Homo sapiens: one gene and its partners. The protein of the gene in region 2 purifies or fractionates together with the protein of the main gene of each other region. This does not show direct contact. Each region holds a gene or a part of one and is shown on either strand. Other genes may lie near its edges. The genes, in order: PALD1, NXPH3 and LMF1.

Region 1 (7,463 bases), on a different chromosome or scaffold from region 2:
TGGGCTGTCTCTCAGGTGCCAGGTTGGGCAGAGGAGACCTGAGCATAGCCAGGTGGGGGACCCCTTCCCTGTGCAAGCCCACGGCTTAGCAGAGAAGGAGCCCGCCCCAGAGGGCAGTGGCTCTCATCACAGACGCAGCTACATGTGTGCTCTCTCTCTCACCTGGGGGATCCCTGTCAAAGACCCGCAGGCTTGGGTTCAGAAGGAGAATCCCCAGACAGTTCCTCTCCTATTCTGGTAGGAAAGGAACAGTTGGAGCACCCTACCCAGGCCACACAGCCTCACTTCAGGAAGCCTCTGGAGATCCAGGGAAGATGAGAATCAAAATTCAAAGAGCACCTGCTGGCACTTAAGGCACAAACACAGCCTTGTAATGCAGAGGTGGAGAGGCCAAATGACTCTGAGTAAAACACAGGAGACTGAGCTTTTTGGGGTCCTCAAACCCCAAAGTGAGAGTCTAGAAATAAGCTCCACCACAGAGCACCTGTACCATCACCACCCCAAACAGGACAACTTCCGGGCACTGTGCCACGCAGGGAAACAGTGATAACCAGGCAATGCACGCCTCGGCCTACCTCTCAGAACCCACCTGTGTCTGGTTCCTGGCCTCTGCTGTCCGCTGGCTCTGGCAAGCATATGTGTCTGTGCCCCCCAGGAGCTCACAGCCAACTCCATTCTGCCCAGGCACTTGAGCGGCTTCCCTGTGGCTCCGAGTCTTTTGTCTGGGAATGTCGGTTCCCATCCCCGTCTGTGCTCTGCTGGGTCTACCTATATGTCTGTCCACTTACATGTCTGCCTCCCATGTGGGGAGATTCAGATCCCAGCAATGGTGTATTTCTATGTACGTGTCTGCAGCCCATACGTGGCCCACGCTGATGGGTTCATGTATGTCTGTCCCCGCACATGTCTGTGTCCCTGGGTTGTTTGCTCACCCCCACCATCCTCCTGTGTCTGTCCTCAAGTATATATGTATCCAGCTCCTCTACGTCTCTGCCCACACAGATGTAAACCTGAGCACACACACGCACTCACGTCTCTGCCCACACGGGGCATCCCCCACAGGTGCCTGGGTAACCCAGGTCTGTGCACCACCTGTTTGGAGGCAGGCAAGTGTGTTCACACAAGTTCTCACAGTGCCAGCCAAGGGCTTCGGGTGAGCTCAGCAACTCCCACTCCCAGAACTGCACCCAAGGCCACGAGCATGAGCACACTGCCACCTCCACGAAGTGCTCCAGAAAAACAGAAACCTGCCAGGGACAATGAGGGAGGGGGCAGGGCCCCAGATACAGCAGAGCCTCACAGAAGTGAGGTCAGAGCTGTGCCAGGAACCACCCACCTCAAGCCACCTGGGCCCTACTGTGCCCACCCCCAACACTGGCCAGGAAAGGGAGGGGGGTGCATGCACCACCTGGGGTCTGTCTGCACTCATAGGAAACTGGCCCAGTGCCTGCCAGCCTCCCGACCTACCCCAACCCCCCGCGACAGAGGCTCTTCAGAAAGGAAGTGAGGACTTCCTCCTGCTTACCTCTGAACCTCCTACAAGGCTGGCTCTAGACCCCAAACCCCAGGAGCCACAGGGCAACTAGGAGTGTCCTGTGCTCAGCCCAAGCCAAGAAACCAAATGGGTTATTTCAGAAATCCACCAGCAGGAAACAAACAAACCTGGGAGTGGGTGGGGATGAGTGCAGGAGAACCTCCTCAGCGCCCCTGCTGCTCCCTGCCCTTGGAGCAAGGTAATAAGGAAGGGCGGGCATGGAGCTGGAACATTTCAGCACATTTGCTTGCTTGCATGGAACTGGATCTCTGCTGCCCTGGCACTCTCGCAGCCTACATTACTCACATAGCAATTAATGGTGTGTAGCCTCTTGGCTTTCCACTATTACCAGTTCAGGACTGGTATTGAAACCCTGTATCGGGGAACTTTGTGTGTTTATGTCCTGTCTTGCCCCCAGGGGCTGAGCCTCCTGAGGACAGAATCCTCCAAATCCTCCTCCATCCACACATTCCAGGGGCACGGCCCAGTGCCCTTCCTGGCATTTAAGAGGTGCTCGGCCACTGGGTTCAGGTTACTCTACCCAGAAGCCAAGGAGTTGGTTCCTGGGCCTCTGGCTGGGAGAGTAGAGATGCCCAGAAGATTCCCTGGGCCATGAAGCTTTACTCCCATCTCTGACAACCCAAGAGAAAGGGCTCCAACCATCCCGGCCACCTTCAGGAGCCGGGTCTCCCATAGGCCACTCTCTCTCTGACAGGTTACTGCCCCTTCAGGAAAACCCTCTGAAACTGAAAAACGTACTCTCCTTGGAGACCCGGGCCTACAGAGGAAGAGGGCCAGACTGGGCCAAGAATCAAAGCCTGTGCCCGCTGAGACTTCTGGACTCGTCCTGGGTCTGAGGGCCTCACGCCCCCTAGAGATGAGTCCCAGGACCCCATCTCGGTCATGAAGCGGCTTCCCTCTCCCCAATCTCCCCCTAACTTCGCGGGAAACCCTAGCTCCTGGCCATGCTCCCAGGTCTGGCAATGAAAAGTGGAATTGTCACCAGGCCATGCCTACACCAAACCCAGGGAACTCGGGAGAGGGGGTAGCCCAGGGTCCAACACACACAACCACCCAGCAACTGCTCCCTGTGAGTCCCTCTTGCCTCCCAGGGACCAATCCTGAGCGGGTGTGGGGTGAAGGCCCAGGACCTCACCTCTCCAAAGGATGGGGAGTTGGTGTCTGGAGCAGCCTCGGGCTGGGGGGTGCCCGGGGGATTCCAGATTTGCCCTCCCCTCGCCAGCCCCAGGGCAGGACACTTCGGTACCTGCCAGCCCGCGGCTCCGGGGGGCATCCGTGCTCCTGCGGCCGGCGTGCTGCGCCCGAACTGCGGGCGCCGAGTCAGGCAGCGACGGGGCGCGCCCGGCGCGCGCTCTGGCTCCAGCTCGCTCCTCCCAACTTCGCCAGCCCATGCGGGGGCAGAGGTGGCTCCGGAGGTGGGCAGGCCAGGCGGACCCGGCGAGGCCACGCGAGAGGGAGCCCGTGCTCACCGGCGACGGGACCTGCGCGCCCCGGCCCGTGCGCGCCGCGCTGCTCCCCAGCGCCCCGCTACCCAACGCCGAGGGGCGGACCCGACCCGGCCGCCAATCACCGCGCCCGCCCCCGCCCGGACCGCGAGTCCCGGCCCCACCGCGAGGGGCGGGGGGCTCAGATTTAAAGACACACTCAGCCCAGCCGCAGCCCCCGGGCGGGAGGAACGCGGGCGCCACGTTCCCCGGCTGCGCTTCCTCCCTCCGCCCGCCCACCCTCCGCGAGGAGGAAAAGTTTGGGGCGGGGGAGACTGCCCGGGAAGCCAGTTCCTCTTCCCTCGTCGCTAGTGCGGCTCCTTCTGGAAGACACCCAAACCCGACATCCAGCCTCCTGGCTGCGAGAGGCAGCAGCGCTCTGGGCGCCACACCCCGTCCCGGACGCCGGCTACCCGCGACACCCGCTGGCCCGGCTTCCCTCGCCCCCCTCTGCTTTACAGCCAGGCCGAGCCTCGGCGGGACCGAGCCCAGCATCCGGGCTCCGGGCCGGCCTCGCTGTGCAGTGCGGCCGGAGCTGGATGATGGTGCGCTCTGCACTTTTGCCTCCCACGTGTCGAAGGGGAGCCCCTAAACAGCAGACGGTCCCCCCAAGCAGGGGCTTCTCCCACGCCCCGGGGTCCTAAGGAAACGCGCCCCTCGGCCCCCAGAGGTGAGAGGGGAACAGCAGAGCAGAGCTTTGGATGGAGAGGGGTCCCTCCGCCCCCACCCATCATGCGGCTCCAGGCAGTGACCCGCACCATAGGCCTGCCCCCCCCACCACTCCTCACCCCACACGCGCGGACTAGCACTAGGCGGCAGCCAGCCCGGCCCACTCCGACGGCCCCGCACGCCCCCGCGAGCACGTGGGTGAACGCACCCACGTGCGTGCGTTCACTCTTCGCTGTGCTTCCTCGCGGAGAGATAGGCTTTGTTGTGGTTGGTGAGTCACTTCCTCCCTCTCGCTGCTCCACACTCGGGAAATCCTTTTTTCTCACCTGTTACCACCTGCCTCACCCCCATTCAGGACTGGAGCTGGATTTCGGCGAGCTGGGGTTGCCCCAGGATGCAGGCAGTGTAGGCCCCACCTCTGTCAGGCTGGAGAGCGCTGGGCTGGGAGAGGGGAACACATTCCCCATGACCCCTAAGAATAACTGAAGACAAGAGAAATCACTCATTGTGGTGGTCTCACCATGTCCCTAGCACCTAGCTCTTAAGTGCCTCGCGAAGTTATAAGGTCGGTACTTTTCTGATCCCTATTTTAACAAATGAGGAAACAGGCCCAGGGAAGACTTGTCCTCAGCTCCATACCTGCTCCTGCGCCACCCAAGGTGTGTGAAAAGGACAGCAGCAGAGAAAATCCCATAGTGGCCTTGGGAAACAGACCTGACCTTCAGAGTTCAGCAGAGCTAGGCTCAAAGTGGCTCACAATTTACTGGCTGTGTGGTCTGGGAAAAGTGACGTAAGTTCTCAGATTCCCAACTTCTACATCCATAAGATGGCTTCATCCTCCTTCAAAGAGGTATTTGAGAAGCCAGTGAGCTGGGCAAGTAATGTCCAGGCATCGTGTGTGGCACACTTTAGGACTCCATCCTGGGCCACAGTTTCCTTCCTTCTTCCTCTTGCCACAGCCCCATATCCCATCCCACCAGCTGTCAGACTCCCCAGCTGAAGCCTGCCATCCTGAGGATGCATTCCAGGATAATGTCCTCTTCTAGGCCAGGACTAAGGTAGGAGCAACATGTGTGTGAGCAGGTGCAAAATATACATTTACATACATGTGCATGTGTATGCACACATGTATACACATACATGCACATATATGTATACAAATATATACATAAACATGCATACCTATAGGGATGCATGCACACATATATACATACAGAAACATAGCACATACACATATGCACATAATACACACATACAAATACACACACTTTGCTTCCCCTCACCCTCCCTGCCCAGCAGATGCTGGGATCCACGGCGGTGTGCCTCTCTAGCTCCCAGAGAACAAAAGCTATGTCCTACCTGTGCCTGACCTGTCTTTTGGCCCACAGCACAGTGCCTGGCACGTCTCCATACATTCATTTGTACTCACCACACACACAGTAGGTGTTCTTGTTGAACCAAGCAGAAAAGCCCAGGACAAAGATGTTCTCAGGACAGCCTGCAGTCACAACCCTTCTGGATCTAACAGTTAGCCTCAGGGTTCAGCTGGTAGGTAGGGGGCTGAGGGCTTGGAGGTTCCTCAGGGTCAGGCCACAGACTGCATCCAAACCACAGTGCCCAGCCTCACCAGCCCACCACCAGCCCCCCAGAGGGCCTGCCAAGTCCCTACTCAGAATAGCGAGTCCTGCAGCCCTGGCTGTCTGCTGGCTATGGGGCTAGAAAAGTCCCAACCACAAGAAAGATTCAGTCAGATCTGCCCCACCGTGGGCCTGGGAGGGGAACAAGGACTGAATGTTGAAGGAGAGAAGGCCACAGAGCAGCCCTGGGTACACCCAAGAGAAGGCATCCTGCTCTCTCCCCAGCCCCAGGCAGAACGAAAGAATCAGTCGAGCCAGCTCTCAGTTGAGCCCATTTGAGCCTCTCAAACTGCAGCAGAAGATTCCTGAGAAATCTGGAAGCTCAGAGCAGAAGCCCAAAATCCCCTGAGAAAAGATTCATGGGTCCCAGAACAGGATCTCAGGAAGGAGAGAGGTCGGGACTGACCCCCACTCACCCAGCACTCCACCAGCACTGCCAGCACCCACATCCCCCACACACAAACGTCCAAGACACCATGTTATCATGCTTGTATTGCTCGTGCGTGAACTCATATTTGCAGGGATCCATGTTTGTGCAAGTGTCTAGTGGGAGTGAGTGTGGCTTTATAAGTGAGCATGTGTGTATGTGTGTGTACGTGTAGCACACACACAAAGCACCTGCAACCGTCCAAAACCAGACAAGCTGCTGCTGCAAAGAATATGAGTAACCTGTTACTCACGCCCCGACAGACTCGCCTGTGGCCATCCACTGCCCCATCAGCCCAAGCAAGGTGCTGGTGCTCTTGGGAGAGAGCTCCCAAGTTCAGTTCCTGGGCAAAAACATGAGCTGTGGGAACCCCAGATTCCCTCCAGGGAACACTCAAGCCAAAAATGATTTCCTGACAGGCACAAATGACTCGCTGGAAAGCAGAGGAGCTGGGTTCAAACCAGCAAAGATGAATCTTGATCAAAGATGGGAAACAGGCCCTTGCTGCTCTTCTCTACTCCCCACTCTTCCCTGACATCTGCCACAGCTGAGGGACACTGGACCTGAGGAGTGGACAACATCAGGACATGGGCTGGCCTTGCTCCTTGTGACCACCTTACTGCCAAGAACAGGGATCATGTGCACCCTTCAGGGTGGGAGTCTTGTGGCCTGTGATTTCGCCCTGAGCCCAGTGGTCTCTGAGCCTCAGGCAAACTCATCCGTGACGCCTGAATCCCAACACAGACGGATCCCCTGTCTGCCCTGGCCATCCGCCCTTCCAGGCCCACTGCCCCATCTCCAGCATCCAGCACTCCCACTTTTTCAGCCCCCTTCTGTGTGCAATCCTAAAGACAAGGGCTTTAAGCAGGGCAGACCTGGGCTTGGATCTAGCCACAGCAACTTTACCACCATGTGACCCCTATGCTACAAGTTACCACATTGCTCCAAGTCTCCTCATTTGTAAAATGATGCAAAGAGCAGTTCTTGCTTCCTGGGAAAGTCTGGAGGATAAAAGGTGCTTGGCACTCAGCAAGTACTTACTGATGACTGCTGTTCCTGTCATTACTGTTGCCACCCAAGCTCACACCATGACCTAGCCCTGAACCTGCCAGGGCAGAGGGGTGTTTGGAGGCTGAGTTCAGGTTCCTCCTCCAGGCAATTTGCCTTGGACTCCTCCCCTATCTGCCCATGGGATCTCTGTCCACTCTGGAATCCTTCCCCTCCCTTCCCTGCCAGGCCCTGGGACCTGAGCATCCCCATCTGGCGCAGGATACATGTTCAGTTATCGGCATCATATTATGGGCAGGATTATTCATTTTATTGATTATATCCTTCTTTGGGTCTAAGCCTAAGGATTACGTCCCCCGACTCCCAAATTCATACACAAGGTTCAAACCTTTTTTTTATCAAGACCCAAAGTAAGAAATACATTTTACACCAGGGCCAGCTACACAGATATGTGAATGTGTGTTATTCACAAAAAAATGCTTAGCCTTACTGCATTGGATGCATCCTGCTTCCTTCCTTCCTTCCTTGGACAGAGTCTCAGGCTGGAGTGCAGTGGTGGTGGCACAATCTCGGCTCACTGCTGCCTCCGCCTCCTGGATTCAAGCAATTCTCCTGCCTCAGGCTCCCGAGTAGTTAGAATTACAGGCGCCCGCCACCACGCCCAGATAATTTTTGTATTTTTA
Region 2 (7,464 bases):
TTGATGTTGGAGTAGAAGTCGCCCCAGCCAAAGATTTTCTTCACCTTGGCTGAGGGTGGGGGGCTGTGGTTCGGGCGGTTGGGGGGCTGCCCAAGAATGCCCCAAGCCTCCCCAGGCGGGGCCAGCAGCCCTAGGAGAGTGGAATTGGCCATGGGGCGGGACTTAGGTGAGATGTGGCCCCGCTTCCGAGGCACCCGGGGCCGGGGCTGGCCCTCGTGGTCATCACGCTCAGGGTCCTCTGAGCCGGGAGGACCATCATCCTGGCCACAGATGACCTATGGAGGGAGTTGTGAGTACAGTGAGAGCCCTGTCCCTGGAGGTCCACCACCCCCGCTACCAGCAGTACCCCTGTCCCTGCCACTTCACTCTGACCTGGGTGAGGAGCTCCTGCGTCTTGCCCACTGAAGCTGGGGGGCAAGTGTACACTCTAGCTTGTGTACATCTCAGGTTCTGACAGTTGGGTCACCCCCCCCCCCATTGTCCTTTCCTCACTGTCTTGGCCACTATTCAAATTCAAAGTCTCAAAGACCGACAATAATTCTCTCCAGTGAACTGTGGCACCAGGGACAACGGCTCCTACCCCTAGGGAGTCCCCAGTCTGATGGGGGAAGCCCAGCTTCTGATCTTGGGGAGCCCCCATCTAATTGCAGAAGCATCATCCCTGTGCTGACAGAGCCCCCAATTTGATAGGAAGTAGAATCCCTGCCTCTGTGAAATCCCCAGGCTGATGGGGGAGGCATAATCTCTGCTCTGAAACAGCCCCGAGTCAGACAGGGAAGCACCATTCTTATCCTGGGAGAGCCCCTGGTTTGACAGGAGAGGCCAGCCCCTGCCTTTTGGGACTTCCTAGTCTGTTGGGTAAGACACCGTCCCTACCCTAGGATAATTTCTACCCTTAGATGCAAAGAGAACCACCAGACAATGGAATAAGAAAGCAGAACACAGTGTAATTCTCAAGCACGAATATAGTTTAGGTTTGGCAAGAGAACTAGGGGAGACCCGGAGTGAATGCCACACCCAGGATGGCCATGGGAATGGAAAGCCAAACACCTCTCCAGGGTACACTGATGATGACATGCCACGATGTTACTTGCATTCTGAGGTAGGAGTTCTTATTCCCATTTCACAGATAAGGACACTGGGGCTCAGAGATTACAACACTACAAGGCTGAGTTCACATAGGGTCAGCCCTTCCTTTACACTCCACACTCCTGGCCTCACAGATCAGATGTGTCTTTTTGAAAGGGTTTTTATCCAGGCGCCATCCGCCTCTGGAATCTGCAGGGGCTCATCCTCCCTCTGCTGGATCAGCTGTGGTGACAACCCACACCTGGGAGATTCCTGGAGGTGCCACAGGGAGAGTGGGACAGCAGTGGGGGGCATCAGGGGGTTGACAGGGCTTCCTGAGGCGCAGCCTGGCTGTGGGTTTGCTCAGCTTTTGAAAGCAACCACTTGCCCTAGGTGTCTTTACTACCAGCACCGGGGGGCATCTGGATTTGGTGGTGACACTGGGGTGGGGACAGTAGGGTTCCAAGGGGCTGTGGGGTCCTCATGCCTGTGTTCTGGCCTGGGTGTTGCCGGCAGCTGTGTGCTGTGGCCGAGTCTGTCTCTGCCCCACAGTTCAGGCTGGCCCTGACTGCCAGGCCCCAGAGGTGGGGTAGAGGGACGGCTAGGACGGGAGGCTCGGGGTCTGGGTCTAGGGCTGCAGACCTGTAGGTACTTGCTCCTGAGGGTCACGGCTGAGTGGCTGGAGGGTAAAGGTGGGGCCGTGAGAAGGGAAGGGCTCTTCCCACAGTGGCATGGGGCGGTGGCAAGGGGCTTGTTGATTAAAGGGGCAGGTCCAGATGTGGGGCTGAGGCTTCACGACAGTATTGCGGGGAGGGTCAGCGGGCGCTCGGTCGGAGGGGAGTTAAGCCACGGGCTGGGTTCGGGGAGGGGATCCCCGGCGCCCTGGGTCGCCGAGAAGCCGCGGAGCCGGCGCACGGGGAGCGGGCTCTGGGCGCTCCGCTCAGCTGCCGCGAGTGCCTGGGGCGGGAGCCGCCTGCCCAAGTCCTGTGGGGCTCCGGCTGCGCGCAGCCGGGAGAGCAGAGGAAAACAACAGGCGGGGAGGGAGGGAGCGGGAGGGAAGGCGGGAGGGGAGGGACGCGGGGGCCGCCCCCCGCCTGGACCGGCTCTGTGCTCTGGGGGACCCAGAACCCGAGGCTCTCTGAGTCCCAGAGGTCAGGGGAAAAGCCTGCAGGTCACCAGCTCCACGACCCGCGCCCCACTCGCCCCCGGCTTCAGCGGTCCTGAGGCTCTGGGAAGGGGTAGGGTAACCCTGGCGACCCGGCTCCAGGCCTTTTTCCGAGCGCTGGTCGCACCTCCAGCCACCCGCTGCGGAGTGGGTGGGCCAGCCAAGCACCCTCTCCCCGCCCCTATTAACCCTATCTGTCCAGTCTCCGGCCTCGGACCCGCCCTCTCCCCCAGCCTCCAGTCTTCCCCGCCATCCCCGGGATGTCGGGGGAAGGGAGAAAGTTTCAGGGCTCGCAAGCTTCCCGCGCTCTCCCCCGATCCTCCGGGCCCCCGCCCCTCTGCGCAGCTCCCCTCGGACCACTCACCAGATAGAGGCTACCCTGCACCAGGAACACGAAGCAGCAGCGAGTCAGTTGCATCTTCCTCCTCCGCTCTCGTCCCCTCGCTCTCCCCTTCTCTTTTCGGGGTCCCAGGCCTCCTTCCCCTTCCTGCTCCTTCAGGCGCGCCGTCCCATGCTCCAGTCCCCGGCGGCCCGCGGCCCTCCCCTCAGCGGGTCGCCCAGGGCCGACCCCGCCCCCTTCGGTCCAGCTGTGCAGCCGCCGCCCCCCTCCCCTGGTCCAGCTGCGCGCGGCACGGCCCCCGCTCGAGGTCCCAGATGTGCGCCCCGAGCGCCTCGAAGGGCCCCAGCTGCGCCGTGGCTCTGCTGCTCCAGATCTGCGCTCGGCGCCCCCCTCGGCTCCAGCGGCGCCGCTCTCGCCCAGATGTGCTGGGGACCTGCGCGCGCGCCCGTCCTTGGTGCTAATTCCCCAAACCAGGCTGCTCCACCCGCCCCGTCGCGGCGCGCCCCCTGGCGGACGCCCCCAGCCGCGCGGAGCCCCGGCCGCCCGCTCCCCGCGCTGCGCTGCGCCCCGCCAGACTAGAGCGCTCCTGGCGCCCAGGCGGCTCCCGCTTCCTCGTCCCTCCCACCGGCGGCGGCGGCGGCGGCGGCAGGTACAGTGAGCCCAGCCGGTACCTCCGGAGTTAACTCCTCCCCTGCCGGCCCGCAGCCCGGGGACCTAGGACGCCGGCTCTCCAGCCAGGAGAGGACGGCACGCGGGGGCGGAGTAGCTCTTGGAGAGGAAGGGAGAGGGTGGTGGCCAGGGGATACGGACCCTACCGTTTCCACCTCTTTTGCAGGGCGCCCGTTCCCCGGGAGCGGGCAGCAAGAATCGGCTGCCCTGCCCCCAACTCAGGAGTCCTGGAATTAAGAAAGATCCTTTTTTTAAAAAACCCATTCTAAGAGCCAAAACCTGTGCTGAGGGAAGTCCTTCTGGGTGTCTAGCCTGCACTCCTTTTGTTATGATGTCTGCTCCTTCCCTCTTCTACTTTACTTGGAGGGGCTGAGATAATCCCTGGACCTTCTCGGTCCAGCCACTGTGACAGGAAGTATTTGGCTGGGCCCCTGGGCTGAAAAGGCTGTTAGGGGCCAGGCTAGATTCTGGGGCCGGGGGCAGGTCCTGAGAAGCTGGAGAGTGAGGGGAGCAAGGCCTTCCTGGAGCCTGTCCCTTCATTATTCACTACTTACCCTCTCTATGCCACAGGGGTCACCAGGCCGAGAGTGGCTCCTGTCCCAGTGGGGTCTCTGCAAACCTCCAGGGCAAGGAGGAAGAACACGACCCTGATCTGAGATTCCCAAAGATGGGGGCCCATCCTCCATCACCCCCACTCCATATCTTCAGGTCTCCCTCCTGGAATTCCAGGGTCCCTTTAGTCTGTAGAAAAATGAAAGGTCAAGTCCTGGCATCCCTTGGAGGCTATGAAGGTGAGGAGGCACCCCATCATTTGAAGTGGTCCCAGCTTGGGCTGGGCCCAAGGAGCACGGTGGGTGGGCACTCTGCTCTGTGGCCCTCCAAGGCCCAGCTTGGTCCCGTGGCTGCAACCCCGGCACGCACCCAGCCTCCTCCCCCACCATCTGCCAGGCGGGTGCGCGGGGAATGCAGATGAATCTTAATATCAGCCTGGGCCAAGTGCGATGAGGGAGACAGATTCTGCAAAACCCAGACAGCATCACAGAGCCCCCTGCATTTCCAGGCACCCTGGGCCATACCAAGATGCAACAGCTCTTTCTTGGTGTTGGTGGGGGGTGGGGTGGGTGGTGGCGTGCATGTCTAGTCAAAGACCCCCCCAAAGCCGGGGAGGCAGGAACAGGCAAATCTTTGTTTGGCCTCTAAGCCTCTGGTCTGGCTGGGAGGGAGAAGCTGTTGGCCTGAGTGTGGGCAGCTGGTTCCGGCGCTCAGCTAGGCAGGGGCGTAGCTGGGCCCACTCCTTGTCTGGTTTCCAGAAGGTCCTGTCCCTAGGAGAGCTGTGTGGCCCAGCAGAAAGAGCACAGGTTTTCAGGCCAGACAGTCCCAGATTCTGTTCCAGACCTGGCTGTGTGACCTTGGGCAGGTTACTTTGGTTCTCTGATGTCCGTTTCCTGATCTGTTCTTGCAAGAACCAAATGAGACAAAATGTGCAAACAAAGCGCAGGCACAATGGCTGGTGGGCAGTCGTAGGAGTGCAGTAAACGGAAGTTCTCGCTCCTCCACTTCCCACACATTTGCTCCGGCTGCTCCTCCTGCCAGGCTTGCCCTTACTCCCCTCTTGGTCATTTCTGGCTCTCACTTTGTTCAAGTTTCCCCTCCGCATTTATCCATCACCCACTGGCCGAGCCTGTCCGCCGTGCCAGGCGCCAGGCCAGGGGTTGAGATAGAGATGAATGGGACACCCTCCCTGCCCTCAAGGATCTCATCGGCAAGTGTGGAACAGAGACATGAAAATCGATAATTGTAACTCAGTATGGTGAGTGGAATAACAGATCCTTGAACAAGGAAGGCATATGGATGCACTGAGGAAGCTGGGGGCAGGGGCGAGAGGGTCAGAGATGGCTTCCTGGAGGAGGTGATACTGCAGTTGTGAGGAAGAGCCTGTCTGGCAAGGGCTATTCCTGGCAGAGGGCACTGAATGACTAAAGGTCTGGAGGCTGGAACTGGAAGCAGTTTGCTGTTCAGGGAGCACAGAGCGGGAGGAGGGGAGGCTGGGACCAGATGATGGAGGGTCAAGGGGTTGAGATCTTTGTTTATGAGGAATCTTTGAAGGATTTTAAGGGGGCTGTGATTATAGTTAGATTTGCATTTTAAAAGCTTTTGGAGAATTCCCTGGACTAGAGGGAGGGAGAGGAGAGGAAATCATTAGGAGACAAATGCAGTGGTTTGGGGGTGGGGGGCAGGGAGACTGAAGGCATCTTTAGGAGGCAAAATGATCAGGATTTGGTTGTTGCTGTGGTGAGGCAGGAAGGGAGAGAAGGAGTCAGGTGTGACACCCAGTTCCCTGGCTTGAGCAACAGGCTGGCTAGTTGATGAGGTGGGTACCATAGATGGGAGGAGAGGGATGGGGTCTGTGGTGAGGGTGGGAGGGTCAGCTTTCGCCATGTCAAGTCTGGGTGCTGTCGGCCACCCAAGGGCAGGAGAAAGTCTAGCCTGGGGTGCTAGAGGTATGGAGGGTGCCAGAGGAGCACTGGGCACCCTGGCATTTAAGGTAAGGTGGTCAGAGGAAAAGAACCCCCAGAGGATTCCAGGGAGGAACAGGGAGCCAGGGGCTAGGAGGACAGGTGGGGCTGATCCCGAAGCCACTGGAGAAGTGGGGTTCTCACGCTCAAGGTGCCAAGCAGAGTGGACACAGTGCGGAGTGTGCATCATGCAGATTCTGGGGTCCCATCCCCAGGGAGCCTTAGTTGGTAGACAGGAACCGAGGACTACATATTATATAAGCTCCTGCCCCTACCCAGGTGATGCTGATGAAGGTGGCCTCTAGATCTGGGTGTGGGGAGTGTCAGGAAGAGGGGAATGAGCCACAGCAGAGTGACCTGGCAAGGGAGAGACAGAAAAGTGACCACTAGGTTTGGCTGAGGTTTGACAACAACTGTACCCAACCTTGGGCCCTCCAGCTACTCCCAGCGTGGGAAGACAGATCCAAGACACAGTAAACTCTGTGTACCAAGCACACTAACAGCTGTGCTAGAGGTGATGTGTCTGCCATTCAGGTGCACCTCTCCATATTCCTCACCCCTCTCCCCAGCCATGCCCTGCACACACCAGGTGCTCAGTGAAGGGGGCAGAACTGAGCACTTTAGGTCCACCCCTCTGCCTCCAGCCTTCCCTGCACCCATTTGCACCCTGGATGGGGGTGGCTGGGCTTTTGCTGAGCACCTCTGATGCTTTCACCTGCTTCCCTCTCACCCTTGGAAGAATCCTATCTACACTGCTTCCTTCCTCCATGCTTCCCCAGTGCTGCCGGAAGGAAAACAACGCGACACAGTGGGCACCTGAGCAGTGCCTCATGAATGAATGGGAAATGGGGTTCCTAATGGCTTGAAAGGCAGAGAGAGTGATGCCCTTGAGCTAGCTGCAGTGGAGAGGTCTGGGGGAGAGGCAAGAGTAGATAGATCATTATTGTTGTTAATCTCTCATGTTTAGCAGGCAATTTGCAATTTTAAAGTGTTAGGATAGAGTGCTATGTATAGGGTTCCAAGGGGGCCTGGAGGGAAACCCTAATTCAAATGAGGGGGCGATGGACAGATTGCAGAGAGATTAATCTTAAATGACGTGTGGATCTGCCCAGGTGGGAGGGAATGGAAAGAACCTTCCAGGCAGAGGAAGCAACTCTTGCAAAGGCCAGAGATGAAAGAAAGCCTGGGAATGGGGTTCTGATGAGGACGAGATGAAAGATTCATTTGTTCCACAAATACTTACCAAGTGTCTACTTTTATGTCCGGTCCTGGGCTGGTGTGGAGGTACAGTGTGGACAGGGGAGACTGCAGTCCTATTTGCATGGAGAATTTGGGCTATGGGAGAGACAGACATTAAATAACTGAGCACATGAAAACATAAGCTCTGAGATGTGTTGGCAAGAGGTACGGGGGAAGAAGAACAGCAAATTCCAAACAAGAGAGAAACTAAGGAGGGATCCTAATTTACCTGGGAGGGGTCAGGGAATGCCTCTGCAAGAATGTGACCTTTCAGCTGGGATCTAAAGGATGAAGAGCTGGACAGAGGGGCTGCACCTGCTGAGACCGTGAGCCTAGGAAGAACTTGGTGCTTTGGAGGAGCTGAAGGGAGCTGAGCTTAGTGAGTGGGGGGAGAGGGACACAACACCGCCAGAGAGGTGGCAGGGGCCAGACCATGCAGGGCTTTACGGGTCTAGCTAAGGGTTTGG
Region 3 (7,069 bases), on a different chromosome or scaffold from region 2:
CCCCCTTCCATACCCAGACTTCAGGACATGAAAAATTGGGGTAAATGAAGGGTGCACGATTATCTTCGGGCCCACACTGGCTTCCTGCGGGTGCCAGAGACAGCTGCCACCGCATGCCAGGGACAATGGCCCCGAGGAGGCGGGAGCTGCCAGGCCGGGGTGCTGGGGGACAGCTGGACGAGGTGCCGACAGGGGCTCATTCCTCCCTGAAGCCGGCCCGCAGCTGCTGGGAGCGTGGCCAGCCACGGGCTTGTGTGTGCCTGGGTCCTGGGGGCTGTGCTGGCGCAGGCCGGGACGGCGGGGACAGGGTCCCACCTAGGGCAGGCTGGTCGGTCTCCGGGGAGGCAGCCCAGTCTTCAGCCTGCGTGCTCTTGGGGTGTCCGTCCCTTCCTCCCCATTCTCCTCCTCTTCTCAGCGTCTTCTCCCCCAGCACCGGGCAGCCCTGGGGTGGCCGAGCCTCATCTCCACTCCCCTCCCTCAGGCCTCTCCTGGGTCAGCCTGGCTTTTTCTCTTAGAGTTTTTGCTTGACAGGGCACTCTCAGGACGCCCTCCTCCTCCTCCCGCCTCGGGTTGGTGTGAGGCGCTCAGGGCAGGGCCCACGTGCCTGTGGTCACAGGACACTGAGCTGCAGGGTGAAAGGACCACACCTGGCCGATCTCCCGGCCGCTGCAGCTCACTCTGGGTTTGCAGAGAAGCCTGTTTTTAAGTGAAGTGCCTTCTTAGAGAATAAGACACACCTGTATCTAAATGTTATTTTTAAACTGCTAGATGCGCCTTAATATAGACAAAGAAGTAAGGTGAGCGTAAATGACATGATGTATTCCGACAGGTGACAGCGCCTTCCGGGCGATTCTGAAACACCAGTGCAGGGCTGTCTGTTGTCTTTTGTTTTCATTTTACTTTTTTTTTTTTTTTTTGAGACAGAGTCTCGCTCTGTCGCCCAGGCTGGAGGGCAGTGGCACGATCTCGGCTCACTGCAAGCTCCAGCCCCCGCGTTCACGTCATTCTCCTGCCTCAGCCTCCCGAGTAGCTGGGACTACAGGCGCCCGCCACCATGCCCGGCTAATTTTGTTGTTGTTGTTGTATTTTTAGTAGAGACGGGGTTTCACCGTGTTAGCCAGGATGGTCTCGATCTCCTGACCTCGTGATCCACCCGCCTCGGCCTCCCAAAGTGCTGGGATTACAGGCGTGAGCCCCGGTGCCCGGCCTCATTTTACTTTTCTAAAATTCGAGGCGAAATTCACATAGCATGAAATAAGCCATTTGCCAGTGAACGACTCGGTGTTTAGCACCTCACAGTGCTGGGCAGCCATCGCCTAGTTCCAGAAGATTCTCATCAGCCCAAAAGAAAACGTCCTACCCCCGGACCACTGGCTCCCCACTCCCCGTCCCCAGACCTGGACCACAGAGCTCCCTCCTTTCCCCGTGGCTTTGCCCACCCCGGACATTTCATGTAAATGGGCTCACGCAACTCATGACCTCCGCGTCTGTCCTGTCCCACTGAGCTTGATGTTCTGAGGTTCATCTGTGTTGTAGCACGTGTCAGAACTGGATTCCTTTTTATTTTATGTTTTATTTTAGTGAGACAGAGTCTCGCTCTGTGGCCCAGGCTGGAGTGCAGTGGCGCGATCTAGGCTCACTGCAACCTCCACCTCCCGGGTTCAAGCGATTCTCCTGTCACAGTCTCCCGAGTAGCTGGGATTACAGGTGCCCGCCACCACACCTGGCTAATTTTTTTGTATTTTTAGTAGAGGCGGGGTTTCACCATGTTGGCCAGGCTGGTCTTGAACTCCTGACCTCAGGTGATCCACCTGCCTCGGCCTCCCAAAGTGCTGGGATGACAGGCGCCCGGCTCCTGGATTCTTTTTGATGGCTGAATCATAACCCAGTGCACTTTTGATTAAATTCAGGCTGAAATGGGCACGACCAGAGCTGCTGGTCCACCTCTCCCCGGCCCAAGCCCTGCCCCCGGTGACCTGCTCTGGAGCCATTCTGGGCAGTGGATGGGACCCCTGCGGTCAGCGTCTCAAGAGAGCAGACCCTGAGGGAAACTTGAGCTCAGAGAGAACAGGAGCTCCCAGCAGACCCTTCCGCTGACTGCTCCCACCCTGGGCAAATGCAGAGCCGGAGCCCGGAGCGCTGGAAGCTGGAACAAGAGGCCCTTTTCTGCTCTGCACAATGCCCCATTGTGCCCTTCGCGGGGAGAGCAGCTCGGCCCAGCGAGGGGAAGCTGTGCACAAAGCCTCCTTGTGAGGGCAGCCCCACCTGAGGACAGCGCAGGGCCACACCTGACGCAGGGCAGTCCCTCTCGCCGTCCGTCCCCTAGCAGGCCTGGCACCCAGACAGGGCCCGCTCTGCAGGCGTGGTCCCAGGGTGTGGGGCTCCCTGTTCCCCACAGATGAGGGGAACAGTGTGGGCTGTGCCGGCCCTTCCTAAGCTGGCCCCCAGGTCACGAGGAGAGGTACGGGTCGTGGGCTCTGTGGAGGGACTTGGGTGCCGGGCGCCAGCCAGGGCCGATGCCTCCTGCGATCCCCAAGGCTCCGAGCCCTCAGGCACACACCACGCTCCCGGAGGCTGGGCCAGCATGCGGAGGATGTTTGTGTGTTCGTACCCGTTGCAACATCTTTAACAGGGTCCCATTTCACAGCTGGGCTCCTAAGGGGGGTTTCATAGAAAAGAAATGGAAACTAAAAATGAATTAAACCATAAGATGTACACGTATGCTACGGCCCCAGCAACACAGGGAAGGTGGAGGCTGAGAGGAAGCTCGGGCCACTGCTGGTCAGGCCTGGATTTGGGGGCCCGATGTCCACAGTCAGTCCCTGCCCACACAAGGCTCACACTGCAGGTGGTGAAGATATAATTAAACAGGTAATTAAACAAGCAATAAAGACGGGTCATTTGACCAACCCAGTGGCGATAATTGATACGCCAAAACACTAGGAAAGCTAGAGAGGCAAAAGAGAAGAATACATGAAAACAAAAACAAAAAACCAGGACAAATATTTCCAATATACACAAAAGAACAGGATTTTTCATACGTAAAGAGTGCTGACAAATGAATAAGGAGAAATCTGCACTTCCACCTAAGTGCCCCACAGTTTATTCACTAACCCCTAGGTCTCCAATGCCTACTCTAGCCTCACGCCCTTTCTTTCCTCTAAGGAATGCCTGTGACCCCAGCCCTTCCTAGCACCCGCTTCACATCAGCCTCCAGAACCCCGCTCCAGTCATCAGAGTGTAGAGTGCTGGCGTCCTCCTTCATGTTCTGTTTGGGGCATTGGGCAGTTAGCCCTTCCCTCCTGAGTCCTGAGTCCCCCTCTTCCCCCACAGCTTGAAGTCCAGTCCCAAGGGCAGGCAGGAGCTGGGTTGTGCAAAGGCGGAAGGGTGCTCAGGCTGGGAGAAAGGGGAGGGTCCCCCGAGCATTCCAGGCACAGCCCTGCCTACTCTGTCCCTTGCTGGCTGCGACGATCGCCCTAGCACCCTCCTCCGCAGAGAGTGAGTGTCAGCTGTGAGGCAGGGGCACGCAGTGGTAGCACCGCCAGGGCCTGTGCAGCCCACCTTCCCCAGGACCACAGCTGGGAAGGCGCCTGGCTGGGGGAGGGCACCTGGCCTCTGCAACTCGGACTGACGGAAGGCACGCGTGCCTGCCCCAGTGAGCTCGGGTCGGGCGACGCGCACCACCTCCCAGGTACCCGGCCCCGCGCCCTACCCGCAGCAGCGCCCAGCGAGAACTGCGAAGGAGGCAGGCTCCGGGCACCCGCTCCCGCGCGTGGGCGGGGCCGGCTGGAGGGGGCGGTGCCTCCGGGACTGTGAGCGGGGCCTCCCGGGGTGTGGGTGGGGCCTTCGGCCGTGGGCAGGGCCGGCCAGGGAGAGGCGGGGCCTCCGAGAATGGGCGGGGCCTCCGAGAATGGGCGGGGCCTCCGGGAGTGCGCCCTCCCCGCACATGCGCCCTGACAGCCCAACAATGGCGGCGCCCGCGGAGTCGCTGAGGAGGCGGAAGACTGGGTACTCGGATCCGGAGCCTGAGTCGCCGCCCGCGCCGGGGCGTGGCCCCGCAGGCTCTCCGGCCCATCTCCACACGGGCACCTTCTGGCTGACCCGGATCGTGCTCCTGAAGGCCCTAGCCTTCGTGTACTGTGAGTGCCGGGCGGGCCCGGGACATCCGCCAGTGTCACCTCCGCGCACCACGACCCCCGCCCTCCCTCGAGACTCCTCCGCGCGGTCTCGCGGCCGCGGCGCCCCCACGCAGCCCTCCTTCCTGCTGGGGCCCGGGCAAGGCGGGGCGGGCAGGGCAGGACAAGGCTTGCTGGCGACAGCGCACCCGGCCCTACCCCTGTCGCCGCCTCGAGCCTCCGGCCTGGGCTCCTGGGCTCCCGGTTCCACCCGCAGCCCCGAAGTTGCACGGCCGCGCCTGCCAGGACCGGCTCGGGGCTATGCGAGGCGGGGCCGGCCCGGGCCCTGGCCCAGGAGTTCCCAGGAGAGCTGGGCAGGTGGAGGGTCACCCGTCCGTGCGCAGGTCGGGGGTCTGCGTCCTGGCTGCGGGGCGGGGGGCGGCCTGGAGAGGCGAGGCGCTCCTGCTGTCCCCGACACAGCGCTGTGCTGACGGTGAAGGTTCCCACTGTAACTGGACGCCCGCACGCCACATCCCTGCCGCGTGCGGCCCCTGCCAAAATCCGAGGAGCCGGCCCGGGAGCCTCCTTCGCGTCTCCCAGGGGCTGAGGGAAGGTGACTGGCTGGTGGCCAGACTGGAGTTTCTCCTTTAGTGTTCTCGACTAGCTCAGTCTGCGTTCGGGAAGATTCCCAGCGGAGGTCTGGGGGCAGCTCCGGAACCTCATCTGCAAGTGAAGCCTGCGCCTCACTGTGGGATGTGGTTGGCCGGGTCCACTGGCGGAGACCCTTCACCCCACAGCTGTGCGGGGCCCGCGTGCGCAGCCTACAGAGCAGAGCTCTGAGAAAAGTCAGTTCACGCTCAAAACCTCTGGATCCCCTGGCCAGGGGCAGCTGGCGATTCCAACTCCCTCTCTCCCCAGTCCCTACAACCCAGAACTGGTTTGGAAGAGAACGGTTCTGTGATCACGGTGACATGTGATCACACGGATACATGTTTCATAAGCCCAACGTGTCAGGAGCTACGAACCTCAAGTGAGGCTCTCAAATGAGTATGGAAGTGAGGGGAGCCTGCCAGGCCGAGATGCAGCCAGCGGGGCGCGTGGGCAGTCACCGTCCCAGAGGGCTCCGGAGCTGCTGGCCCCGGGCGTTGCCCACGCGTTGGTTGTAGGCCGTGGGCATTGGACGTCTCCCTTTCCTTCCATCGTCTGCTTCCCTCACGTGTGGAAGGAAAGGGTCAGGTTGCAGAAGTTCTTCTTTGCACAGCCTTTGTGCCACACACGTCGCGGGAAGTTTGGTAGCCTGGTTGTGCTGGAGTGATGCTCAGTTCGACGTTTTGTGTGACATTTGTGTGATACTTTCCACCTCCTGGTGCAAAGTGATGAGACGCGCTCATCACTACAAGGTTTCCTGTGGGATTGCAGTATCGGCTTCAACTGGGTCTGTGTCTCTCTCTCTCTTTCTTTAAAGCAACTATTTTATTTTATTTATTTATTTTTTTCGAGACGGAGTCTCACTCTGTTGCCCAGGCTGGAGCGCAACGGCACCATGTCGGCCCACTGCAACCTCCGTCTCCTGGGTTCAAGCGATTCTCCTGCCTCAGCCTTCCGAGTAGCTGGGATTATAGGCACGCACCACCATGCCTGACTAATTTTTAAAAATATTTTTAGTAGAGACAGGGTTTCACCATGTTGGCCAGGCTGGTCTCGAACTTCTGACCTCAGGGCCTCCCAAAGTGCTGGGATTACAAGCGTGAGCCACTATGCCCGGCCTGCAATTATTTTAAAAAGTAGTTCTTCCCAGGTTGCTTTTCCCTCCACAGTATTAAACAGTCATTTTAAATGTTGGTGCTGTCACTTAGCAAACGATGAAGTAGAGATAAAGTGAAGCTGTGAGGCTCTAATAGGCCTTCCACAGGGGAGCCCGAGATACAGCAGGAAGTCCCAGCGGCCTTGCCTCCGGAGCACAGCTTCATAAAACCAGCTCAGACTCTTTCAAACGAGCTGAGGCTCCTTTGATCTCCGCAGGGATTCTCTGTTCAATTCAGAAGGAACTGCTTTTAAGCCACTGGGTCAAGCGGATATTTTAAGCCTGGTGCCCAGCATTGAACATTTCTCCTTGACATATGCACGTTCTTCTGTCTTGTGAGTACATTTGGGGTAGAATCAGTGTTTTTCTGCTGTATCAAGGAACCAGTTTCCCATCTTTCAGGGACATGGTTTTCTGGCTGAGCTGGCCCAGGGCAAGCAGGCAGTCATCCTGCATTTATCTCCTTCTAGAAAGTTCTGGATTTTACTGGGACTGTGCGCTACTCCCTGTTCCTCAGAATCCCAGGGTTTTTCCAAGTTGCCATAGGGGCTCTCCAAATATTTCACTTGATACTGAATTTTACAATGTTTATAGCTATTGAAACACTTGTAATTAAACACATAACCAAATGTATTCTGTGGAAACTCCCCTTGTTAAAAGACATTGAACTGAGGGAGGCTTACCCTTAGGCAGATTGTCTCAGCAGACATGTAGTAAAGATGTACAGATCAGGAGAACACAGAAACGCCTGCCCTGTCGGGGAAGCTTCGAAGCCAGACCTGGAGAGGCCGGCTGCCAGCGACAGGCCTCTGCATTCAACCTGACTTTGCATCCGTCCTGGGGCTGGCTCCTTCCCACCGCGGGCCTGGGCGTTTCCATGTGCTGCCACCGAGGTGTGTAGGTGCTAGGGGTGTGCTCACTGCACACAGACGTGCATACCGCGGGCGTCCTGGGGTGTCGGGCATGCCCTGCTGTGCTGTGGGAGCCGGAGTGTGTTAGCGGAAAGCGGCATTTTCACAGGGCTCAGAGTTGAAGACACACCTGTCTTCCTGACGTGTGGACTCGGGTCCCTAGTGTGATTACTGCGTTGAGCAGATGCTGAAGTAGCACCCTGCCCGGTGCTGACCTCCTGGTGACAACGCCACTACCC

The links.
Region 1: the proteins of NXPH3 (region 2) and PALD1 purify together in Homo sapiens (affinity purification with mass spectrometry; 2 studies listed by BioGRID and IntAct, with this or other methods). This does not show direct contact.
Region 3: the proteins of NXPH3 (region 2) and LMF1 purify together in Homo sapiens (affinity purification with mass spectrometry; 2 studies listed by BioGRID and IntAct, with this or other methods). This does not show direct contact.

What each region holds. Positions count from the first base shown.
Region 1 is NC_000010.11:70,474,398-70,481,860, reverse strand, and holds the start of PALD1 (paladin), read right to left. Parts: upstream 3,095-7,463; 5' UTR 2,802-3,094; exon of another isoform or gene 2,691-2,801; intron 2,664-2,690; exon of another isoform or gene 1-2,663.
Region 2 is NC_000017.11:49,571,407-49,578,870, reverse strand, and holds the start of NXPH3 (neurexophilin-3 precursor), read right to left. Parts: upstream 3,001-7,464; 5' UTR 2,652-3,000; coding exon 2,598-2,651; intron 276-2,597; coding exon 1-275. UniProt on the Homo sapiens protein: May be signaling molecules that resemble neuropeptides. Ligand for alpha-neurexins.
Region 3 is NC_000016.10:967,858-974,926, reverse strand, and holds the start of LMF1 (lipase maturation factor 1), read left to right. Parts: upstream 1-3,942; 5' UTR 3,943-3,946; coding exon 3,947-4,139; intron 4,140-7,069. UniProt on the Homo sapiens protein: Involved in the maturation of specific proteins in the endoplasmic reticulum. Required for maturation and transport of active lipoprotein lipase (LPL) through the secretory pathway. Each LMF1 molecule chaperones 50 or more molecules of LPL.